Linked DNA regions of Homo sapiens: regions 2, 3, 4, 5 and 6 are each reported to be linked to region 1. The links are microRNA targets in miRTarBase. Many come from high-throughput screens and were not tested one by one. Region 1 holds a microRNA gene; each other region holds the end of a gene's coding sequence.

Region 1 (4,088 bases):
TTTGCTTCTCTTCTGTGGTTTTCATGTCAATTAATGATTAGGCCTTGAGCCTCACAAGAAAGGTGATAGGCCTTTGAGTCGGTTTACTGCAACAGTCTACTCAAGACTTGCCCCAGGCCCTGGGAAACATGTAGGTTTAAAAATCCCTACCCTGCGTTTTCCTTTCACAGGGAGTGAACTTCTGGCCCAGGCAGTGGGCAGTGGGGCACGGTTGCCCCGGAGATGAGACTCCTCTTCCCGCCCTGGGGGGTGGGGGCTGGCTGGTGGCTGAGGGAACTATTTTTGTTTGTTTCTTTTTTTAAAAAACGGAGTCTGGCTGTGTCCTCCAGGTTGGAGTGCAGTGGCGCGATCTCGGCACACTGCAACCTCCGCCTCTCGGGTTCAAGTGATTCTCCTGCCTTAGCCTCCTGAGTAGCTGGGATCACAGGCGCCTGTCACCACGCCCGGTTAATTTTTATTTTTATTAGAGACGGGGTTTCACCATGTTGGCCAAGCTGCTCTCAAATTCCTGACCTCAGGTGATCCGCCCACCTCGGCCTCCAAAAGTGCTAGGATTACAGGCAAGAGCCACTGCGCCTGGCCGGGGAACTGTTTTTGATGGGTGGGGTCCCCGGCTGTGGTTGGTAGTGTGGGGGCGTGGCCGAGGGTGTGGCCTGAGGGAGTGAGCTAACCGGGGGCGTGGCCTGATATGGGGCGGGGGGAAGAGCCGGGCTGGGGGCGTGGCCTGGTGGGGAGCGGGGCTGGGGCGTGGCTTGGCTGAGTGTGCTGCCGCGGCGCGGGAGGAGAGTGTGCGTTGCGCTTTCTCCCGCGATCGCCCTGCCGGTCGCTAGCTCCGAGGGCGCGCACTGGATCCCAGGCTCCTCCGAGAGTGCGGCGACCTCGGGGCTCCGCCGGCACCGGAGGTGGCTCTGAGGGCAGGGACGTGTTGGACACGCTGACTTTGTAGGCTCCGCCAAGAGGCGCCGCAGGAGGTAAGACGGCTTCGGGCGCGCGGCTCTGCCGGGCGGGCGCGGGCATGGGCTGTTAGGTAGAATATCGGGAGGATTTGAGTCCCAGTGGACTGCCTCGGGGCTTCGGGATGTCCAGCTCCCAGCTGCTTGGCCTCTGCTTCCCCCGCCGGTGGAGGCTACCGGGTGCTCACCTGTTAGGTCCGTGCGCCCGCTCCCTGCCCGGCGGTGGCTCTGCGCCCTCTGGGCCACCCGGCACCATCGCTTTTGGGAGGACATGCACGTGGTGTTCTCGCAAAAGGCCGTTTCCAGCCGGAAGCCTGCAGGGAGGTCGCCTTGTAACTTCACCCGCGCTCCCAGCTCGCGGGGCCTGGCCTACAGGGGCGGCCGTGGGGGTGGCAGAGTCTGGGGAGCCTGGCGCGGCGGAGCCCTGTAACGCTCTGCTCCATCGGGTGGCGTGGCTGGTGCCTCCGGGGACCCGGAGCGATGCGGTTGGAGAGCTTAGTTTAGAAAGCAAGTTTCTCTTGGTACCAGCGGAGTCTCGTCCCAGGGGAAAGATTTTGGGACCCGGTGCCCATCGTCTGTGGACTGCAGGGAATGCATTGGCGGAGTTGGTTTGGTCCCATTCTGTGCAGGAGGTGGGGGAATTGGTACTCCAGCCCCAGGCAGGTAGAAGCCCGCGCTGCTGCCAGCGTCAGGGGGAGCTCGGGTGACTTGGGCTGGGCCACCCATCTGACTGCAAGGTTACAGAGCTTGAGCAAATTTCCCCTCCCTCCAAGTGCAGGAAAACCAAACCAAAGCAAGCAAACAAAACCCTGTGGGTCATTTGCTTCCCAGCATTGCATAGGGATGTGGATAAATAGAATAATACTGTGAATTTATTCAGCTCTTGTTCCCATGGCTTCCCATAGCCTTATATTATGCACCTCCCCCTGCCAGCATTTTCTCTGTCCCCACCTTCGGTTTTTGCTGCCTCGTGTTTTCTTCTCTGTGAACCTTTCCTGGTCACCCAGCGATTTGCTCTCCTTTATTCCCCTTGCTAACAGGCGGAGAAATCTCACTCCTTTTCTTTTTCCACCTTTCCCAACAAATTCTCCTTTTTTCCTAATGTCCCCCTCCCCCGTCTTGCAAACTTCCTCACTGCATTATTCTCGGGGTGCCTGTCATGCACCCTCCCTGTTCTCTGCCCTCCTCCCGCACTTTAGAGTTTCATGTGGCTTTGTCTTATTATCCCATATCCTAATTCTCATCTACCTCCCTTGGCCCCCACGTTTGCCATCTGCCTCCACCCAGTTCTCCCATCTCCTTCCTTATTTGTGCTCCCGTGCATATGCAGGTTTCTTCCTTGTTTCCCCATGTTTCTCCCACAGGTGCTTTCTTCCCTTTGCCCTACTTCTCCCTGGCAGGCGCTCTGCCCAGCCACAGCCTGCCCCGCCTGGAGGGCACACCTTGCCTCAGTGCCTTCTGCTGCGGTTTTCCATGCTCCATCAGCATCCCTGGGTTCCTTGTGTTCTTCCAGTCCGCCCTCTGTCACCTTGCAGACGGCTTTCTCTCCGAATGTCTGCAAGTGTCAGAGGCGAGGAGTGGCAGCTGCATCTCTGCAGGAGGACTCTGGATTTCAGGACCCTCCCTTCTGCCACTGCTTCTGACTGATTGTTTTCTTATTGAAGTCGTATCCTCTACATAGTTCTAGAATTAATGTCAATATTGATGTTAGGTAGCATCTACCAAACTCTGGGTGTGTGCCAAGCACTGTTCTGAGGGCTTAACGTGCATCAGTACTCATTTAAAATCCTCCACACATCCCTATAATGTAGGATCTACTACTGTCCCCATTTGACAGATGAGAAAAGGAAGGCTCAGAGGAGGTAACCGGCATGGCTTCTTGCCACTGCCTAGCAGTGGAGGCCCTCTTCTCACCAGACAGTGGAGCTTCCCTGCTGGGTGACCTCTTGAACTCAGGCATGCCTGGAGTTTAGCTTTGGAAAGGAGGTTGTTATATGACATGTTTTATTTAGTCTGCAATGTACACCAGTGGAGGACATGAATTCTATACCTGTAGGACAGTGCATGGAGAAAAACCTAATGCCGGCTGTCCCTCAGAAAGCCTGGGGCCAGTGCCTGGGCTGTCACCTCATCCATGCTATCAGTCTACTTTCCCTCTTAGCCACAGGAAGCCCTGAAGAAAGTGGCATAAAAATGACCTGGCTGGGCACAGTGGCTCATGCCTGTAATCCCAGCACTTTGGGAGGCCGAGGTAGGAGGATTGCTTGAGCCCAGGAGTTCAAGACCAGCTTAGGCAGCATAGCAAGACCCCATCTCTAAAAAATAAAAATAAGAAATCAGCTGGTTGTGATGGCGCACTCACCTGTAGTCCAAGGTGCTCAGGAGGCTGAGGTGAGAGGATCTCTTGAGCCTGGGAGGTTGAGACTGCAGTGAGCTATGATTTTGCCACTACACTGCAGCCTGGGTGACAGAACGAGAGACTCTGTCTCTAAAAAAATTAAGTTAAATTAAAAAAGAAGACTACTGCCAGCTGTCTCCTCCCGTGCATTGAGAGTTCCGTTTCACTTTAGCTGGACAGATCTTTATGGTCTCTGTTAGCTGTGTGACTGTATGAGTCTTATTTATATCCATTTCATTATGTAATCTTAAAGCCTTGTCCAAACATTTCTTTTTTAGTCTTTATCTTCCTAAGAGTTGGAGGCAAGTAGTATTTCTACTTTACAGATACTGAAGCAGAGCATGCACCTTGATAGCTGAAAGGGACTTTATATTCTACAGATGAGGAAACCGTGGTCCAGGGAAATAAAATGGCATATTCAAGGGAAAGCAGCAGGACAAAGTTGGCTCTAAGGCTTCTCTGGTTCAGGGCTCAATGCCTGGCCCTATAGCTTGGTAGGTTGACCTCTCTGTTTGCTGCTGGAAGCAACAAAGTTTCTTTCCCCTTCCTTTCCCTTGAGCTAAGAGGCATTGGAAGGTTTCACTTAGAAGGGGAACTCATCAGTGCTTTCCTTTCTTTTTTGTCTGAAAACTAAACATTTAAGAAATGTTTGCCTATGAGACATGTAATAGCATAAATGGGATCATAACATCACAGTGGTATAAATTCAAATGTTTTAGAAAGAACTATCATTGTTA
Region 2 (4,088 bases), not on the chromosome of region 1:
AGCTTAGGCAAGATGCTGCCCACACTGGGAAGGCAGCCAAGAATTACTGCCACCTCCACCCAAGAGGATCACCCTACTAAAGGCCACAGAGAGGACCAGCCCCCGTCAGAGACTGCTTGTAATTTCTCTCACTGTGGGAGCTTCCTAATGAATAAACAAACTAATAAAAGTATTTCTATAATTTTCTATGTGATTCAGATTCAGTGAAGCAGTAAGTCTTTGGTGCTTAATTATGCAAGATATCAAAAACACTTATTGTCCCAAATACTTTGCAGAGCAATAACATTAAAAAATAGTTCTAAGTCCTGTTTCACTGATCCAGACCTCTCTGTTTTTTCATGTATGATGCAAACTTTTAAAGAAATGAACAAAAGCCAGTCACTGGAAGCTGCTTGAATTAATGCGGATCAAGAAGAAAATGGCAACAATTCACAGTCCCCAAGCCTCATTTCAACTATTAGGATTCTCCCCTTTTAGATATTTTACAGAACTGCTAACGAGTTGTCAGTAATTACTTTATTGAGCATCTGCAAGGTGCACATCATTGTACATAGCTTGAAAATGTCAAATTGAGTTTTGTCACACCCTCTGTAAAGGCTTCCCTAATTTCCATGGTTTCGTGGTTTTTCTTCCTCTGTTCCAAGGAACATGTTATTAGTACCTTTACTGCAGCACTTACTTGTCCTTCATGTGTTACGATTGTACCATGTGTTCTCTCCACTAGGTTTTGAACTCCTCAAAGATGAAATCCATGCATTGTTCATCTCTGCAACCTTGATGTCCAAATACGTGTTTGACAGATGAACGAATGACTGAATAAATGAAGGATGGTTCACTTTGGTTCCTCCTCCCAACTACCTAGTCTGCATTTAGATCGAAGTGCTGATGCTGAGTGAGAAGACAACATTCAAAAGGCACAATGGAAAAGAGAAGTGTCCAAAGGCATAGCTGATCCACAGACTAGAAAATCAGCTCCATAATGAGGAAGAGGCTAATCCCAAGGCCTCAGAACATAACAGAGCCACAGCAAGATCTTTAAGCCAGAGTTGGGGTTCATAAACCCCAACCTCTACCTCAAAGCCCAGCGTAGCTCATTAGGAACAGGCCAGCAGTCCAGCCACCTGCTGTGGCTTCACGTCCAATGCAGATGGTTCTAGAGACCCACAGGCACAGCCACACTAGTAGCTCAGGGCAGTGGGTCTCAGCCACCTATCCTTACTGATACTTTTTGCTTTATTGTCCCTTTTTAGGTTTCAAAACTGGCCACCCAAGAATAAATAGACACTAAACAATTGGATGTGAAAAAGAAAGACATTCCCCAATGGTTCTCAAGAAGCCGTTTGGATGCTGTGCTCCTTACATGGTGCTAAGGGGCTCAAGCTGCCGTGGATGCCCTTTTCGGACCTTTCAGTATGCAAATATGTGCTAGGAGGGAATTAAGTTTCCATGGGATGCAGTAAGCATAATGTTGTACATGGATGGCTAATTGTTTTCATCACACATGCCAAATCCAACTGCTTTGTCAGGGCCTGGAGTCTGTTTGATGAATGAGGAAATCTTGCCATGGTCCAGAGAGGCAACTGAATAATAGCACGAACTTCCCATGTCTGACATCTCAGGTGTGATGGGACATGTGCAAACAACGTTGGCTCCTAATCTGCTCTCAGCTAGCCATGAAACTAAGGGCTAGCCTGTTGCCTCCCAGGGCCTTGGGTTCCTTATCAAATAATAGTTTGGCTGGACTGTCCCTCTGGTCACTTCTAAAATTCCTTTTCTTTATCCAGCAGGATTCTTGACCAATCAGTACCAAGTCAAACCCTCACCCTTCCATTTACCTTCACACTGCTGAAATAAAGGGACATCCAAACTTTATGCTCCCTAAGACAAGAGTTGGTAAAATACTGCTTTAAGTTTCTTAGCTAAGCCTGGTGCACATCTCCCTAGCATGGACCCATGCGGTGCTCATACTCCCTAACCTTGCATCACAAATTGATCAGGATGGCAGCTTGCTGGCTGCTGTTCTACTCTGGGTGTGCCTCCGCTATTTTTCTGCAAAATGTAACTCTTGCTACGCTCATGTTTCTCATCCATCGACCCCATGCAAATGGTTGACATATTGTTCTCTCCTTGTTGGGACCCCGAATTTTTGCATATAACTTTCTGATTGATCCTGGGCGGTAGCCCCAAGATCAGTATTTCATACTTGGCTGTTTCTACCTCTCAGCAATTCTTTAAAACATTCAGAAAAATCCAGGTGATTCCATCCCAATTGTGGGAAGCAAAGTTTGGTCCCTCTTGTTACCATTTTTTAGTGCAAGATTTAAAATGACAAGTGCTTGATCAAAAAAATTTTGAGAATGAGCTCTCACATTTAATTTGTATTAATGGGGGAGTTATGTTTGTAGCCTCAAACACACTGTAAAAATAATTTCCTAAGATATAATTATTCTTAAATATTTTATATATTTTTTTCAGAGATGGCCACAATAACTTTTATCTTTATTTTGTGGCTCTTTTCTATATAGTTGTATCAAAACAACCATTTAGGGACATAAGTCAGAGTATTTTTACTGTGCTGGGTACTTATTTCATGCATTAGAAAAATCTACTATGTTGCAGAATATGAATTTTCATGTTAGCTTAACATATAGATCTTTCAGTTCAACCTTGTCAGGCAGGGATACACGTCAAGTTAATCCAAGCTGGACAAAAGATGTCCTTGGATCTGCAGCACCTACTAAGAGCAGGGCTGTCCACCTTCTCTTCTCTTCTTTCCACCGGAGAGGACTGTATTATACCATTCAAGGGGCCCAAAAAAAAAAGAAAAGAAAACTTTGCCCTTCAATTCAAACTCTGTTATGCCACATTTGGCATAAAATGCTTACCATTACCTAAAAATGATTTTTTAAAAAATGCTTATCATTACCTAAAAGAAAAATGTAGCAAAATTCAACTTTGGAGGAAAATGAAAACTGTACATATCCTTGAGAACCACGGAAAGCTAAGAGATATAGAAAATTGTACATTCCCACAAAGTTATTTCAACAAAGAGGCATTATCTGCATTCCACCAAGGTCAGTCGAGTTGAGGAGAAAGAGAAGCAAATGCCAAGAAATTGGCTGCAGATTTTTTTTTTAATCTGTTTTGCCTTAAATCACAAAGAGCAATGGGAAGAACAAGCTCCCTTTCTCCTTTTCTCAGACACCTTTGGTCTAAAGTTGTTCTTTTTCTAGTTCTTCCCTCCCCTGTAATTTTTAATTATCAGAAATAAATACCAGTGCATTTCAGGTGGTCGTCTGTGTTAGAGTGCATAACTGAAGTTATTAGTGGCTTGGGAGTTTGCACATATAACTGGAGGTAAACAGCAGATTACTACACCTAATCTCACCCTGAGCATTTCTCCTCTGTCAAGTCTAAATTCTGCCATCTTCTTTTGCAAAAACAAGCAGACATCCCCACCAAAGGCCAAAATATAATGATAACTGACAGTGAACAGAAACCCATTGTAAAGACAAACTATTCCAGCTTTCAAATTCACTGTGACTGGATACTATTAGTTTTTTGAGTTTATAACTCCCCAGAATTGTCAAAAGTAACCTTGTAGCCAATCCGCTTGCAGACACTAAAAACCACCTGAAATAGGCCACCCAGGGTACCAAAAGCAGTGTCAAAGAGCAGTGAGACAGTGCCACCAAGGCCCAGTGCAATGTCCTTGCAAACAATTGGAATAGCGCCCATGGTGTACACAGGGAAAGTGGCCACATCCACAAGGACACGGACAGGGATGCTCAGAACTCGGCAAATGGCCTTCAGCAGACAACAAAGGATCCGGAGGAGAGCCCTGATGACTTTGGCCACGACCTTGAGCACCTTCCAGGGAATGCTCACCAACTCTTCCCCAATGGCCATGAAGTATGAGATGGTGGCTGAGCCCAGGCGGTAAAGGCAACTTTCTATGCCATTAATCACCTGCTTGGTAACACACCACAGGAAATAGACAATGTTCTTCAGGATTGCTACCACAAGGTAATAAATTAATTGAAAAAGCTTGATGAATGGGGTAGCAATGAAGCCCATGAGTTTTCCCA
Region 3 (4,088 bases), not on the chromosome of region 1:
GCACCAGCGCAGCGCGGAGGCGCAGCCGGAGGCGGGGAGCGGGGCAGGGGGCTCGGGCCCCGCAATCTCCCGCCTGCAGGCAGCGCCCGCGGGCCCCTCGCCCCTCCTGGACGGCCCCTCTCCGCCGGCGCCCCTCCACTGGCCGGGGACCGCGTCCCCGAACGAGGACGCTGGTGACGCTGCCCAGGGCGCAGCGGCCGTGGCGGTCGGCCAGGCAGCGCGCACAGGGGACGGCCCGGGGTCCCCTCTGCGCCCCGCCTCCCGCAGCTCTCCGAAGAGCTCCGACAAGTCCAAGAGCTTCAGCATAGACAGCATCCTGGCGGGAAAGCAGGGCCAGAAGCCGCCTTCAGGGGACGAACTCCTAGGGGGTGCCAAGCCTGGGCCCGGCGGCCGTCTGGGTGCCTCGCTCCTGGCCGCCTCCTCCAGCCTCCGTCCGCCTTTCAACGCTTCCCTGATGCTCGACCCGCATGTCCAGGGCGGCTTTTACCAGCTCGGGATCCCCTTCCTCTCTTATTTCCCCCTGCAGGTTCCCGACACGGTACTCCACTTCCAGTAAAGCAAACAATGGCACGGTTCTTCTCCCGGCCCAGCCTGAGCCTCCGCTGAGCGAAAGGCCACAGCTCCCACCGGCGGAGGATTTTAAAATGATCTTTGCCTGGGTCGGCCTGTGGGTTCAGGGAAGTGTTACCAACCATTGCGCGCAGGTGGGCGCGCTCGCCTGCCTTCTCCGAAGCAAACTTTTCCCAGCAACTGGGAGCAGCTACGGAGACTTAAAAGATCCCCGCGGGGTCGTGGGCACCGCACGTGGGCCCTGCAGGGACCTCCACCGCGGGAGATTCCTTGACGTTTGACCTGTCTAATGGAGTGTGGTCTTCAGCCGCCCACCGCAGGTCCTGCGAGTCCCGGGCATGCAAGGGCCCGCAGACCACCCAAGGCAGGCCTTACAGGTGCAGTTGAGGTCCTTTCGACCGGGGACCCCCGTATGACCGTCGCCTGCTTCGCTGTTGCCGTGTGGCTCAGGCCTTGGTTTTGAGCCCATCTGGGTGGTGGGTGGTCACAGCTGGGTTTGTTCCTGACTTGAAGTTGTGGAGGTGCCGGGGGTGACCCCGGGTTTTCAGGTTTTCTGAGAGATGTAGGGCCCGATGAGGATTTATGACCAATGTTCAGCTATAGAAGCTGATAACCACCCAGAGCAATAACACTTTTATTTTAAACAGAGACTTTTTCTCTTAATTTCTTTCTGGGTAGTAAAAAGAACATGTTTCATTCTTTGCATAAATACTTGACTCTAAGCATTGACCTTTGAAAACGCTTGTATTAACAATTTTTATTAAGAAAGTGCACTCTATATAACATCTTCTTGCATTACGATAGCTCATTAGCCAATACACATGCAGCTATGTAAGCCACAACAGCAGACGTCCTATCCTTTTGCTTTTGTTTTTAAGGGATCAAAATATTTCAAGGGATACCATGAGGAAGGGTGTGAGGGGAAGGGGATATGCCTTGGACAATGTCAGAGTTTTGATTTCCATGTTTTTTCAAGATCCAGGCTTGGTGGTCGCTATATTTTTCAGAAACAGATAATGAAAGACTACATTTAATTTAAAAAGTTGGGTGAAACAACCAAAAGCAGATGCAGAGAGAGAGAGGGATGAATGCGGGGGAAGAATAAGGGGACGTGCTGGTGTCCGCTGGAAGGGGCCTCTCTGGGCCCCAGAGGACCTGAGGTTTGATGGCAGGAATCTCCCAGACACTCCTGGCCCCCGCACCCCCTGCAGCCGCCCGCTCTTCCCTCCCAGCCCTGCCAGGCAGGCCTGGAGGCTGATACTAAATCAAAACCTTAAAGAGGTGACTGGCAGTCTGGGGAGGGGAGAAGAGGTCTGCAACGAAAATCTAATTAAGAACATTGAGATGTTCACAACCAAGTTCAGCTTGCAGCTTCCGGGGAAATGCAACCGACCTCTATGCCATCTCTAGCTGGGTAATCTTCGAGGCCCTGAAATGCAATTTTCTGAACCTCTAAGTCACTTTTATTTTATGTCATGTGATAAAGACACAAGTAGTCACGCACTATTGGAAATAGGTTGGGAGGGAGGTCTTTAAGATCGCTTTTAAAATAGTTTCCAGGACTTGTCTAAAAATGATGACAAACTTTGAATCCAGAGGGCCTGTTGGTCAATGTGTTGGAAAGGACATTTCAGGCCGGCAGAGTAATTGGATAATTCACAGGCATAGAGGTGACTTTTGGAAAATTCATTCTCCTATCCATGCTGAACCAGGCTTCCACGACTGGGTTCTACCCAGGCCAGTGGGAAGACTCTGGGAAACTTCAGGCCAGCCTTGATTGGAAGAACTTCCAGGAGGAGCCATTGCTGAGATCCAGGCTCACTGTGATTCACTGAAAATGTAGCGAAAGGGCTGTCACTGGATATTTTGCTATCCCAAACTCTCAGCCTCTGTGAATAAAGTTGTTTTTTCATTAACCTCTCAGTGACTGGTTCAGTGGATTACTGGAGGGAAATAAACAAACAGTGTAATAAGAAAGAGGAGACTGGGATTATATCTGGGAGTCGTGTTAGCATCTCAGGAGGCTCTGGCTTCTGAGGGGTAAACACACAGATGGAGGGGAAGGAGTGGAGAGGATGCCGGGCCCAGGAAGCTGCCTCCATATCAGAAAGCACGATGAGTTAATTCTGCCGTATTGAATCGGTTTTTAATCTTTCCTTTTTCTTTTTTGTGTTTGTATGTTATCTTGGGAGGTTTTGTTAATTTGTGATGGCTATGTTTTGAAGAAGCAAATAATTTGATACTGCAGTTTTAAAAGGGTCGTATTTTAAAGTTACTATTCCAAAAAGTATTGTACGAATGTTACTTTTATGACACAGAAAAAATGCAGATGTATCCACTTTGTGTGTTTATACATGCATAAAGAGAAATTCTATTTAATCCCAACTTTTGTCTGGTTTAGAAAAGCTAAGACAAGTGGATACTGAGGTCGTTTTTATGTAATCTATATAATTGCATGTGTATTCCTTCCTCCTGAACCAAAAAGAGGAGGTTTGGGTCTTACCAATCCGAATAGCTGTTCTATTGATCCATATTTAATCGTTGGCTCAAAATTATGGCTCAATAAGGTCAATAGTTTCTGCTCTTAATTAAAACAAAATCTCAGCTATAATTAGGGTGAGCCAGAAGCAAGCTTATCATTGTACTCTTAGGCAATCTGAAGGAATACCTCTCTGCTCTCATCTAAACAAAGGGAACAGATCTGTCTTCTGTAAATGATCTTTGGTTCAAGCCCTGATTACACACACACACAAACAAATACCCACACACATATGAGTGCACTGATCATAATGAGGATATGGCAGGCACATGTTTGATAACAAAGTGTGTATACATATGTACACGTTTATATATATGTATATACATATATATACATGAATGTGTAGGGGTGTGTGTGTGTATTTGTTCTGTGTACATGAATGCTCATAAATGTATCTTTTTTGAATATACCTGAGACTCAGATCAAGTACTGAGTCCTTTCACTTTAACCCAAGTATTGATACTATTTGAAAGATTTTGTTTTTCTATATAGTTTTTAAAAATAGATAATAATTTCTATATAGCTTTAATAGTTTTGTTTCTCTATGTAGTATGAACCAGGGATAACTTTATTGTTCTGTGTTAGTATAGTGAAACTGACAGATTTTATTTAAACATCGCGGAAGACACCCGCTTTGAGAACTTTTCCCTCCGTTCACAAGGACAGAGAACTTTACAAAGGACTCTTGCTCTGCCTGGCCTCATCTAGTTGCTGGCTTTTCTAGAAACAAACGGCCTCCTGGGCCTCCAGTGAACCATAAGAGTTTTGAGAACCTGAATAGGACCTTCTTAGCCATTTTCAGATTTAATTGTGCCCGTTTGAATGGTGGTCTTCACCATTTCACTCAAAGTGGTGAGTGTATGCCCGTGTGTATGTTAAAGAATTAGCCACATATAATTATTGTTACAGCTGAAAGCCAGAGCCAGCCTGCCCAGACCCTGGCAGGTTAATGTTAACATCACAAAGGTAGGTGACGTTT
Region 4 (4,088 bases), not on the chromosome of region 1:
ATGGAGAGGTGGACAGAGTGGATGTTCAGGTGACTCTTGGGATTCTGCCAGGGATCTCTAGGTGGCTGGTGGGACCTCCTCAGAGATGGTGACATGGGGGGGGTGGCTTGTCTGCCAGTGGATGGAGATTCCAGGGGGTGGCTTCTGCAGAAAGAGGCTCATGGAGCCCCTCATCCTCTGCCTTGCCCTCCTCTCACCAGTTCTCCTACGTGGACGCCGACGGGTCCCCAGTGAATGTCGTGCAGCTGAACTTCCTGAAACTGCTGAGTGCCACAGCTCGCCAGAACTTCACCTACTCCTGCCAGAATGCAGCTGCCTGGCTGGACGAAGCCACGGGTGACTACAGCCACTCCGCCCGCTTCCTTGGCACCAATGGAGAGGAGCTGTCTTTCAACCAGACGACAGCAGCCACTGTCAGCGTCCCCCAGGATGGCTGCCGGGTAAGAGGGTGGGGCAGTGGCCAGCTAGAGAGGGGAGGCAAGATGTCGGCCACCTTCCCGGTAACTCACCGTCTCTGTCTTCTCTGGGGACAGCTCCGGAAAGGACAGACGAAGACCCTTTTCGAATTCAGCTCTTCTCGAGCGGGATTTCTGCCCCTGTGGGATGTGGCGGCCACTGACTTTGGCCAGACGAACCAAAAGTTTGGGTTTGAACTGGGCCCCGTCTGCTTCAGCAGCTGAGAGTGTCCGGGGTGGGAGGGACCATGAGGGAGCCCCAGAATGGGGTGCATTTGGTGCTGAGGCTTTGAAGCCACCGTATTTTTCGTTACCTGTGACTATGGAGCCAATGGGATGTGACTTCGCTCATCACGGACAGTCATTCCTTCTCCTTTCCAGGGTGCTGGGGGCTGGGGTTCCCTGGCCCAAGGGTCCAGCCTCCTCTCACCCCATTCCAGGTGGCATACTGCAGTCTGGCTCTTTCTCCCCTCCCTCCCCACCCAAGCCTCACCTCCCCACCCCTTGAACCCCCATGCAATGAGCTTCTAACTCAGAGCTGATGAACAAAAGCCCCCCCACCCCCAATGCCTGCCTCCTCACTCCTCCGTCGCTGCCCTTCACACCTTTTGGTGCTACCCCTCCCCAGAGTTAAGCACTGGATGTCTCCTGATCCCAGGCTGGGACCCCTACCCCCACCCCCTTTGATCCTTTCTACTTCCACGGTGAAAGGACTGAGGTCGGACTACAGAGGGAAGAGGGACTTCCCTTGACTGGGTTGTGTTTCTTTTCCTGCCTCAGCCCAGCTCTGCAAATCCCCTCCCCCTGCCCCCCACCTCCCCAGGCTCACCTTGCCATGCCAGGTGGTTTGGGGACCAAGATGTTGGGGGGGTGAATCAGGATCCTAATGGTGCTGCCCTATTTATACCTGGGTCTGTATTAAAAGGGAAAGTCCCCCCTGTTGTAGATTTCATCTGCTTCCTCCTTAGGGAAGGCTGGGATATGATGAGAGATTCCAGCCCAAGCCTGGCCCCCCACCGCCAGGCCATAGGGCATAATTTGCATCTCAAATCTGAGAATAAACTGATGAACTGTGTTTCTGTCTCTGTGTATTTCTTTTTTAAATTTTTTTGTTTGTTTGTTTGTTTTATTTATTTATCCTTGAGACGCAGTCTTGCTCTGTCGCCCAGGCTGGAGTGCAGTGGTGCAAGCTTGGCTCACTGCAACCTCCGCCTCCCGGGTTCAAACAATTCTCCTGCCTCAGCCTCCCTAGAAGCTGGGGTTGCAGATATGCACCACCACACCCGGCTAATTTTTATAATTTTAGTAGAGATGGGATTTCACCTTGTTGGCCAGGCTGGTCTTGAACTCCTGACTTCAGGTGATCCGCCCGCCTTGATCTCCCAAAGTGCTGGGATTACAGATGTGAGCCACCACGCTCAGCCCTTGTTTGCTCGTTTTTAGAGACTGGGTCTCACTCTGTCGCCCAGTCTGGAGTGCAAGGGCATGATCATGGCTCACTGCAGCCTCCAACTCTGGGACTCGAGTGATCCTCCTTCTTCAGCCTCCTGAGTACCTGGGACCACAGGCATGCACCATCACACCCAGCTGGGTTGTTTTGTGTGTGTGTGTGTGTGTGTGTGTTTGTGTACAGATGGTGTCTTTCTTTGTTGCCCAGGCTTGTCTCAAACTACTAGCCTCAAGCAATCCTCCCACCTCAGCCTCCTGAGCTGCTGAGATTACAGGTACGAGCCACCTCACCCAGCTCTTGATCTCTTTCATCTGATGTGGCCCATATCTGTCTTGGGATCTGGCTCTTGTCTCATCTGAGGTACCTGTCACCACCTGTATTAATTAGGTATGTCTTTTGGGAATGCAATTATAATGAGACTCACTGGAGATTATAGGCCTATTTATTCACCCAGGCTCCTAGAGGAAAAGTTGAAAATTGTCAGCTTGGGCTGGGAGGCCCAAGTCAGCTTAAACCAGAAGTTTGGCCTCTTTACAAAAAAATTTTTTTTAATTAGCTAGGCATGGAGGAGCATGCCTGTGGTTTCAGCTACTCAGGAGGCTGAGGTGGGAGAATGACTTGAGCCTGGGAGGCGGAGGTTGCAGTAAGCTGAGATTGCACCACTGTGCTCCAGCCTGGGTGACACCACAGCAAGAACTTGTCTCAAAAAAAAAAAAAAATTTGGTTTGGGATGATTTGAATTAGGAGTAAGATGTTGGTTTGAGGTATATTTTTAACTGATTTATTGAGATAGAATTCATTTACCCATTACCATATAATTCATTACCATTCATTACCATATAATTCACCCATTTAAGCTGTGTAATTAAAAGAAATCCTATACCCATTAGTGGTCACTCATGTCTTTCCAACCTCCCAGCTGTAGGCAACCACGAATCTGCTTTCTGTCTCTAAGGATTTGCCTATTCTGGACAGAAATATCCATTTCATATAAATGGAATCACGCTAGGTGAGGTGGCTCACTCCTGCAACCCCAGCATTTTGGGAGGCCAAGGCAGGAGGATCGCTTGAGGCCAGGAGTTCCAGACCAGCCTAGGCAACATAGCAAGACCCCATCTCTACAAAAATGAAAATAAAAACATTAGCCAGGTACAGTGGTGCATATCTGTAGTCCCAGCTACCCAAGAGGCTGAGGCGGGAGAATCACTGGAGGCCAGGAGTTGGAGGCTGCAGTGAGCTGTGATCTCACCACTGCACTCCAGCCTGGGAAACAGAGTGAGACCTTGTCTCTAAAAAAAAAAAAAAAAAAGGAATAAATACAAATAAATGATATAATGATATATGGCCCTTTGTATCTGGCATTTTCAGCAAAACGGTTTCCAGGAGTTTTTTGTTTTGTGGGCAGAGTCTCGCTCTGTCACCCAGGCTGGAGTGCAGTAGCACAATCTCGGCTCACTGCAACCTCCCCCTCCAGGGTTCAAGCAATTCTCCTTTCTCAGCCTCGCGAGTAGCTGGGACTACAGGCACGCACCACCATCCCTGGCTAATTTTTGTATTTTTAGTAGAAACGGAGTTTCACCATGTCGGCCAGGCTGGTCTCGAACCCCTGGCCTCAAGTGATTCACCCACCTCGATCTCCCAAAGTGCTGAGATTACAGACATTAACCACAGTGCCTGGCTGGTTTCCAGGTTTATTTGCAGCATGCATCAGTACTTCATTCCTTTTTATTGCCAAGTAATATTCAGTCATCTCCCACCTTCAGCTAATTCATTCATCGTTGATGGGCACTGTTGGATTGAGTTTAGTTAGGAGTGATGGAGAAATGGTGTGAGTTGAGTTGGGTCAGATGGGATTGGGTGGGTAGAAACTTCAGGTTGGGGTGAGTTTTCTCCCTCAAACCCAAGGCTCTCACCCTACTACTCCTGCCACCAGCCCCTTAAGGCCACCTGAATACTTGTCCTCATTCATTGAATCAACGTTGCTAAGAGTCCTGACTCCATGAAGACTGTTGGTGCCCAGAGGTTGATGATTCGTTCATTCATGTTTTTTTAGAAGCATTTTTTTTTCTTGCTGTTGCCCAGGCTGGAGTGCAGTGGTGCAATCATAGCTCACTGCAGTCTCCAACTCCTGGACTCAAGTGATCCTCCCACCTCAGCCTCTCAAGTAGCTGGGACTATATTCA
Region 5 (4,088 bases), not on the chromosome of region 1:
CAAAAGCCCTGCAGCTTCCAGTTTTGGATCACCTGGATTTTCAGGACTTCCAGCTTCCTTGGCAACAGGTCCTGTCAGAGCTCCAGTGGCCCCAGCCTTTGGAGGTGGCAGTTCTGTGGCTGGTTTTGGTAGTCCGGGCTCACATTCTCACACTGCTTTTTCTAAGCCATCCAGTGACACTTTTGGAAATAGCAGCATATCCACTTCTCTGTCAGCCTCAAGCAGCATCATTGCAACAGATAATGTGTTATTCACACCCAGAGATAAACTAACAGTAGAAGAACTGGAACAATTTCAATCCAAGAAATTTACTCTGGGAAAAATTCCATTAAAGCCTCCACCTCTGGAACTTCTAAATGTTTAAAAGGGCAATTTTAAATACAAAAAAGAATGATGTTTAAAATTGCTTTGAGTGATTCATACAGAGATGTATATATGCATACATGTATATATTCATAAGGAATATAAGCTTCCATCAATAGTGATTTTAAATTTGATTTTTTTCTTAACTCTAAATATTTAAGTAAAAAGTAACAAAAACTCTGCAAGCAAGGGAATTTTTTTGTACTGTAATTTTGAATGGAACTGAAAAATTATGCACGAATAAAGTACTTTTCTCATGCCATACCACTTTACTGTCTCACAATTTAAAGTTTTAAACTTTTTTTTTTAGGAAGGAGATAATTTCTGTAATTATTAGGGGGAACATGCTCAAATATTTAACCTACTTTTAGAGTAAACATTAGTAGCATGACTTCATGTTCAGGATTCTCTCAAAGAGATAAATCAGTTTGTAAAGAGTGACAAGCTTTTAGTTTTAGAACCATAGGGGCATTTCCCCCCCGATAAGTTTGGTTCCCTCTCAACTTTGGCGGTCTCGTGGACCACCATTTGAGTTTTCTTCAACAATCTTAGGCTGCTTTTTATTTTGGCCTCACTTTTATAGAATTCTATTTATTCATCACATTAGTCTGTCAAATGGATGAGTTGTAAGAGAAACAAATTGTGATCTCATGTGAATAAATAATGTGTGTAGTGGGGTCAGGATTCACCAGTTTCTGTTTCTAGATCTTCTCAGGCATGGCCAGGTACAGTAGCTCACACCTGTAATCCCAGCACTTTGGGAGGCTGAAGCGGGCAGATCACTTGAGGTCAGGAGAGTTCGAGACCAGCCTGGCCAACATGGTGAAACCCTATCTCTACTAAAAATACAAAAAATAAGCTGGGTGTGGTGGCGGGCACCTGTAATCCCAGCTACTCAGGTGGCTGAGGCAGGAGAATCACTTGAACCCGGGAGGCAGAGGTTGCAGTGAGCTGAGATCACACCACTGCCCTCCAGCCTGGGTGACAGAGCGATACTCCATCCCCTTTCCTGCCCTCCCCCAACAAAAAAAGAATTATTGTGCATGTTTGGATCTCCCTGTGTCCTCAGATTGAGGGAGTAAGATTTATATTTTACATATGGATGATCCAAGAAACTAAATGCCTGTCACGAGTTGAAGCAGGTATATCAGACTTCTGCGCTTTCTCAGTCCTCAAAAATTGCATAGCTAGCACTGCCAGAGCAGTTACTAACACGGTTCTGGCATTCAGCTGATTTTTCTAAGTGAATATAAAACCTTACATAATAAAAGATATGCCCTCCAAATGATTTTAACGTATGCAAAGGATTCAGTCCTCAAAAGACCTGCATTCTCCATTACACTTTTGTTGTTGTTCTTGTTGTTGTTGTTGTTATTGTTGTTGAGACGGAGTCTCACTCTGTCGCCCAGGCTGGAGTGCAGTGGCGCGATCTCGGCTCACTGCAAGCTCCGCCTCCTGGGTTCACGCCATTCTCCTGCCTCAGCCTCCTGAGTAGCTGGGACCACAGGCGCCCACCACCACGCCCGGCTAATTTTTTTGTATTTTTAGTAGAGACGGGGTTTCACCATGTTAGCCAGGATGGTCTTGATCTCCTGACCTCATGATCCGCTTGCCTCAGCCTCCCAGATTTCTGGGATTACAGGCATGAGCCACCATGCCTGGCTCCATTACACTTTTTGAGGAGCTGCATGACTCATCTGACAGTTCTGGAACCCCAGTGTTTGGTACAGAATCTATACTATAACCAGGGGATATATATTTGAAACCATGCTGGTGTAGAGATGGTAAATAGAGCATAAGTTCCTTTAGAAGGAGCAAGATTAAAACAAAAAGAGCATAAATTCCTTCTTTGGTCTCAAGCTCTACAGACTTTCCAGTATTCGAACTAATACTTGAATCCTAGAATTTTCCTGCCCCGCCCCCCCCCCCCCCGGGATGACCCCTACACTACCTCTAAATTGCATACAAGCTCCCTGAGGTCTCAGTTGAACTTCCCAGTGTCCTGGAAGATCTCAGAAAATCCTAGTTAAAAGCCCATTGTTTCCAACTGTGCCTGATTATAGGAATCACCTGGGGTGTTAAATAATATATCCAGATAACATATCCAAATTACAGGAGCTGCCCATTGGGATGGGCTTGGGAATATGTCAACAGGTATTCCTTGTGGTCCTTCAGGCAAGTTTGGGAAACAGGACTATCCAGCTGGATTTAGGCTACTTAGTAATACCTGATTTGGGAGTTTTAATTGTTGAAGTCTGTTTTCTGTGCTCCCATATAGACAAAAATGTGGGAATTTAACAGGATCCGAAGTTTTTTAAAAAGCACAAATAAGTGCTACAGGCTACTAAAAAATTTTGAGAAACTAAAGCAGAGAGGCCCACAAAGTAGAAACTAGCACCATGCATACATACTGGTGTCAGAAGTCAAGAAAACTGGTAACTCCCAGACCTAGGCTAAGGGGCATCGCGGCTTCAGAAAATCAGAAACAGGTAACAATGAGGTGGCAGCAGCTGGGTATAAAGGTAGGTTGAGTGTTCAGACCCCAAGAGGGAGGTAGTAGAAGGGAAAAGGCACCCACAACAAAAGGATGTGCCAGCATCTTCTGGATGGTATCTCCTAATCTCATATCCAGTGAGACTAGCAGAGCTGGACTAACTAAGAGGCATACCCTAAAATAGGCAAAAATAGCCTGCCTTCACAGCTGCTGTAATAGCTGTCCTTTTCACCTAAGGTCTAGAGCAAGTGACAGAATTGTAGATAAGGTATAGCAAATAAACTGATTTAACTCGATTGATTATCTGATCACAGATTAGAAGGGGAGAATGGTAACAGCTGAGAGCTGATTAAAAGGGGAGAGAAAGTGAGCTGATATTAAAACTAAAAGGTATAAAATGATTTAGCTATGCAGTATTATTCATGAGTAAAATAATTCAACTTGAAGCATCAAACAATGATTTAATTGTGGTAGATACATACATTGGAATACTAAACAGCCTTTCTAAATGACTTAATAGAGAATAACTTGGAAATGTTTTCATTCTGCAATCAGTGGACGAGAGTTTGCTATAAAAAGAGCATGTACAGTGTGATCCAATTTGGAGAGAAAGAATATATTAATGGGGGGGAGGCTAAAACTTAACAATAATAGCTCAAATTTTAGTGAGTTTTTGCTATGTGCCAGACAATGTCCTAAGCATTCTGTATCTAGTATATTAGCAAATTGCCTCATCACAACCATATAACCTAGGTGCTATTATAACAATTCTCATTTTCAAAATGAGAAGAGCAAGATTTGGAGACATTAAATGACCTATCCAAAGTCACTCAACTTCCAAGTAGTTGAGTTGTAATTCAAACACTGAATTTAAAGGGGCCATGCTTTAAACCACTCTGCTATACCACATACTAGATTATGAGGACACTTTGTCTTTTTTTTTTGTATTTTCTACAATAGCATTACCTTTATATGTTTCCCCCATTTTTCCTCATATGAGTACAATTTGCAGTCCCACCCCAAACTTACTGAATCAGTCTGTATTTTAACAAGACCCACCAAATGATTTGTATGCACATGAACATGTCAGAAACTATTTCATGTGTAAAGGAGATGTACAAAAATGTACACAGTATTGTTTATATAGCAAAACAGAAAGCACCAGAAGTCCATCCACGGGATAATGGATAAACTTTGGCATAATGGAATATAACTGTATAATGACTCAAGT
Region 6 (4,088 bases), not on the chromosome of region 1:
GCTTGGTGAAGGCATTCACCTGCCCTGAGCATTCCCCTGCAAAGGGACCCAGCATCGCACAGATAGGACAGGCTGTGGCTTAAAGCATTTCATAGGGTGAAAATCGAGTCCTCCTGTTCCCCACCCTCCTTCCCTCTCCTCGATTTCCTCACTCTTCCCCACCCCCATCCTGTCACCTGGGGCCTATAATCAATGAGACGTAAAATGAGAAAGTATCAGGAACCAGCAAAGCATGGCGAGCAGCTGGGGCGGCCTTGCCGCCGGGCGTGATGGACTGCCAGCCCTTCGCTTCGCCAGCCTCCCACACCCTGACGTGGGCAGTGGCGTCTCACCCAGCCTGGGCTAAGGCTCCCAGCTGGACATCAGGGAGGGGGCTACCTCTGATGAGTCCAAAAGCCTCACCTTTAAAAAGGAATGAAATCTATGGTCTTGACATGGAAAGATGAGTCTAGGCTGCATGGTTGAGTCATAAACACAGGTAACACGATCTCACCTATAAGATGACCCCATTTTTGTTATTATGTAGAAATACTGACCCCATACTAGGATTAGCAGTTTTCTCGGAAAGTAAGATTACAGGGGAAACATTCACTTTCTACTTTATATACTTTTCCTTTGTTGTACCCTTAAAACAAGTATATATTGCTTTTATAGTAAAAATAATCTGATAATAAAGATATTTCTATTATGAGGAAGGCTCACAGAAATATGCATGGGCTATTGAAAATGCTCAACGTCCTTGCTTTGGGCTGGGATTTTATCAACATGGTGGGAAGGCCTGAAGCACTAGATCTAAAATCAAAGCACAGAGTCTAATTTTTTTTTTTTTTTTTAAGACAGAGTCTCCCTCTGTCGCCCAGGCTGGAGTGCAGTGGCGCAATCTCAGCTCACTGCAACCTCTGCCTTCCGGGTTCAAGCGATTCTCCCTGCCTCAACCTCCCGAGTAGCCAGGATTACAGGTGCCCACCACCATGCCCAGCTAATTTTTTTTTTTTTGAGACAGAGTTTCACTCTTGTTGCCCAGGCTGGAGTGCACTGATGCAATCTCGGCTCACCGCAACCTCTGCCTCCTGGGTTCAAGCAATTCTTCCGCCTCAGCCTCCTGAGTAGCTGGGATTACAGGCATGCGCCACCACACTGGCTAATTCTTGTATTTTTAGTAGAGACGGGGTTTCTCCATGTTGGTCAGGCTGGTCTCGAACTCCTGACCTCAGGTGATCCACCCACCTCGGCCTCCTGAAGTGCTGGGATTACAGGCATGAACCACTGTGCCCGGCCAAATTTTTGTATTTTTTAGTAGAGACAGGGTTTGACCATGTTTGAGACACAGTCTCACTGTGTTGCCCAGACTGGAGTGCAGTGGCACAATCATGGCTCACTGCAGCCTCGACAACCTGGGCTCAAGTGATTCTCCCCACTTAGCCTCTCAAGTAACTGGGACTACAGGTACACACTACCATGCCCAGCTAATTTTTGTATTTCTTGTACAGACAGGGTTTCACCATGTTGCCCAGGCTGATCTTGAACTCCTGGGGTCAAGTGATCTGCCTGCCTCAGCCTCCCAAAGTGCTGGAATTACAGGCGTGAGCCATCTTGCCTAGCTGATTTTTCTTTTTTTTTCTTTTTTTTTTTTTTTGATGGAGTCTTGCTCTGTCGCTCAGGCTGGAGTGCAGTTGCATGATCATAGTTCATTGCAGCCTCAACCTCCTGGGCTCAAGTGATCCTCCCACCTCAGCCTCCTGAGTAGCTGGAACCACAGACATACACCACCACACGTAGCTAATTTATTTTTATTTTTAATTTTTTTTGTAGAGACAGGGTGTCACTATGTTGACCAGGCTGGTCTTGAACTCCTGGCCTCAAGCGATCCTCCTGCCTCAGCCTCTCAAAGTGCTGGGATGACAGACATGAGCCACCAAACCCAGTGAGTTTGATTTTTTTTTTTTTTTGAGACAAGGTCTTGCTCTGTTGCCCAGGCTGAAGTGCAGTGGCATGATCATGGCTGACTGCTGCCTTGACCTCCTGGGCTCAGGCAATCCTCCTGCCTCAGCCTCCTGAATAGCTGGGACTACAGGTATGCACCACCACACCCAGCTAATTTTTAAATTATTTGTAGAGACAGGGGTTTCCCTAGGTTGCCCAGGCTGGTCTTGAACTCCTGGGCTCAAACAATCCTCCTGCCTCAGCCTCCAAAGGGCTGAGATTACAGGCACAGGCCACTATGTCCAGCTTGAGTTTGATTTTTTTTAAAGAGAAAATCAACAATCCCTTAATGAGCCTGATTTTAAGACTTAATGTGTCAAAATATGCAGTTCTTAAGACAAAGGGGGAATAGGTGTAAAAGAGGTCCTTGGTGTTCACAGCCTAAACCTGGACTCAGGGTTGGCTGCTATCAGGGTTGAGGGGTCCCTACCGCTGGACACCTTAGATGGCCTGAGAACCAAGCCCACATCAGTGCTATGGTCTAGCCATTCTCCCTCAAAGGGACCCAGCCTCCCTCCAGCCAGCCTGAGGCCCACTGGCATGCAGGGACCTCTGAGAACGACTGACTCCCAGGGATTCCTTGGCTCCTTACCTTCCAGCATTCTCCTGCAACCAAGCCCAGGGCACATGGGACTGTCCCTGAGCCAAGGACCCAGGCATGCTGTGAGCCAGGGGAAGGGGAGTAAAGAGACTGGTGGCTTTTACCCTCCATCTGAGGGTGGAGGGGCTGGGAAGGGACAGGAGGTCTGTGGGAGGTCACTCCAGAGGCTGGGAAGGGACAGGAGGGATTCTGTTGTTCTCAAGTGACCTATTTGACTTCCCCCTCCTGAGGAGTCAGCACACAGGCTGAAAGATGCAGTGAGACACAAGTTTATTGGTGGAGCTGCAGCGGAGTCCTCCCTCTTTCAGGGATAGCCAAGGGCACAGCACCAACAGAGGGATGGAGAGATAGACCCCCAAACAGACACATGGATGGAGCAGACTCATAGAAACCATAGCACAGCCACATAGGCACAGAGACACACAGGCCACAGCACCAAGAACACACACACACACACACACACACACACACACACACACACAGACAAAACCACAGGGCTAAGACACACGGACAAAGTGCGGGCTTTGGGGCCCCTGCATAGACAGAGCGAGGGCCATGTGGGGAGGGGGCCCCTACTGACCTCCCCCAGGCATAGGCACACCAACAGCACATAGACAGGCAGATGCCCCCAGCCAGCCAGCCTGCCACACAGACAAATGGACTGCAGGGAAAGGATGTTCGTGGCTCCACATGAACCATGGGGAGATGGCACCACAGGCCTTCAACACACCCTGCCACACTGAGGCCTGGGAGTCCCCGCCCCTGAACTAGTCACATCTATTCCCCTGACTCCCACCCCACTCCCCGCCACACTTTGGTCTTGCCCACTGGGGCTGGGGCTGGGGCTGAGGCTGGGGAAACTGGCAGGTGGTAGGAGGGAGAGAGGAAGGGGTATGGACCTGGCTCGGTCCCGTCTCTGTGATCAGGGCAGCAGATGCTGAGAGTCTGGGGCTGAGCCTCGGCCTGGCAGTGGGGTGAGGGCAGGGCCATGGCTCAGGCTTGGGGGGGTTCCTGGCAGCGCAGGCACTGGGCCATCTCCGGCTGATACTGCTCGACCTGCAGGGTGCAGCTGGAGAATCCAAACCGGGAGTAGAGCCGGGATGAGGCTTCAGCCAGGACGGCTTCAGGGTCAGCGGTGGAGTCTGTGGGAGAGTGATAAGAGGCGGCATCCATCCCGGGGGAGAAAGAACAGGCAGGGACTGAGATAAGGACAGGGAAAGGGGCTGCACAGCATTAAAGCCAGGCGTGAATGGAAGCCTGCTTTTCTTTCTGTATTGTATGAACAGCATAAAAGTGTCAAATCAAATGTTGGAGAGACTCACCCCAATCAACCATGCTAACACACTAAACTCTTTCCAGTCTCCTATTCTCTCCTGTCATTAAGTGTCAACATACAGCTCAACATTTCAGCAGCCATACCACCCGATTTCCCAGGACAATCCAGTTGTTAAATATCTGTCTCATTGTCCCTCTAGAGTTTCCATCAAATATCCCACAAATTATA

The links. The annotated mature microRNA hsa-miR-2276-5p reads GCCCUCUGUCACCUUGCAGACG and lies in region 1 at 2,470-2,491, shown strand. An mRNA with a match to its seed (bases 2 to 7 or 8) in the 3' UTR can be bound and repressed. Matches are read on the target gene's strand: a 7mer-m8 pairs with bases 2 to 8, a 7mer-A1 pairs with bases 2 to 7 and ends in A, and an 8mer does both.
Region 2: the mRNA of ENDOD1 is a reported target of hsa-miR-2276-5p. Seed matches in the 3' UTR shown: 7mer-A1 at 2,290-2,296, 8mer at 1,746-1,753 and 7mer-m8 at 585-591.
Region 3: miRTarBase lists FOXL1 as a target of hsa-miR-2276-5p. Seed matches in the 3' UTR shown: 7mer-A1 at 1,649-1,655 and 7mer-m8 at 2,164-2,170.
Region 4: miRTarBase lists COL5A3 as a target of hsa-miR-2276-5p. Seed matches in the 3' UTR shown: 8mer at 1,183-1,190 and 7mer-A1 at 1,191-1,197.
Region 5: miRTarBase lists NUP42 as a target of hsa-miR-2276-5p. The part of its 3' UTR that is shown has no 7-base or 8-base seed match.
Region 6: the mRNA of SLC30A3 is a reported target of hsa-miR-2276-5p. Seed matches in the 3' UTR shown: 7mer-A1 at 2,881-2,887.

What each region holds. Positions count from the first base shown.
Region 1 is chr13:24,159,962-24,164,049 of GRCh38, forward strand. MIR2276 (microRNA 2276) reads left to right here and starts at 2,455; the gene lies at 2,455-2,543. SPATA13 (spermatogenesis associated 13) reads left to right here and starts at 759. Exons shown (of 13, transcript NM_001166271.3): 1 at 759-971. RefSeq lists a silencer at 650-709.
Region 2 is chr11:95,129,059-95,133,146 of GRCh38, reverse strand. It overlaps ENDOD1 (endonuclease domain containing 1), which reads right to left. Exons shown (of 2, transcript NM_015036.3): 2 at 502-4,088. The coding sequence ends at 3,568. Among named protein-coding and RNA genes, the nearest start is that of LNCRNA-IUR, 19 kb to the left of the region's middle.
Region 3 is chr16:86,579,206-86,583,293 of GRCh38, forward strand. It overlaps FOXL1 (forkhead box L1), which reads left to right. Exons shown (of 1, transcript NM_005250.3): 1 at 1-4,088. The coding sequence ends at 556. Among named protein-coding and RNA genes, the nearest start is that of FOXL1, 2.7 kb to the left of the region's middle. RefSeq lists an enhancer at 204-825.
Region 4 is chr19:9,957,003-9,961,090 of GRCh38, reverse strand. It overlaps COL5A3 (collagen type V alpha 3 chain), which reads left to right. Exons shown (of 67, transcript NM_015719.4): 66 at 201-440; 67 at 534-1,530. The coding sequence ends at 680. Among named protein-coding and RNA genes, the nearest start is that of OLFM2, 23 kb to the right of the region's middle.
Region 5 is chr7:23,200,382-23,204,469 of GRCh38, forward strand. NUP42 (nucleoporin 42) reads left to right here. Exons shown (of 7, transcript NM_007342.3): 7 at 1-625. The coding sequence ends at 364. Among named protein-coding and RNA genes, the nearest start is that of NUP42, 20 kb to the left of the region's middle.
Region 6 is chr2:27,251,735-27,255,822 of GRCh38, forward strand. It overlaps SLC30A3 (solute carrier family 30 member 3), which reads right to left. Exons shown (of 8, transcript NM_003459.5): 8 at 1,950-3,726. The coding sequence ends at 3,578. Among named protein-coding and RNA genes, the nearest start is that of SLC30A3, 9.3 kb to the right of the region's middle.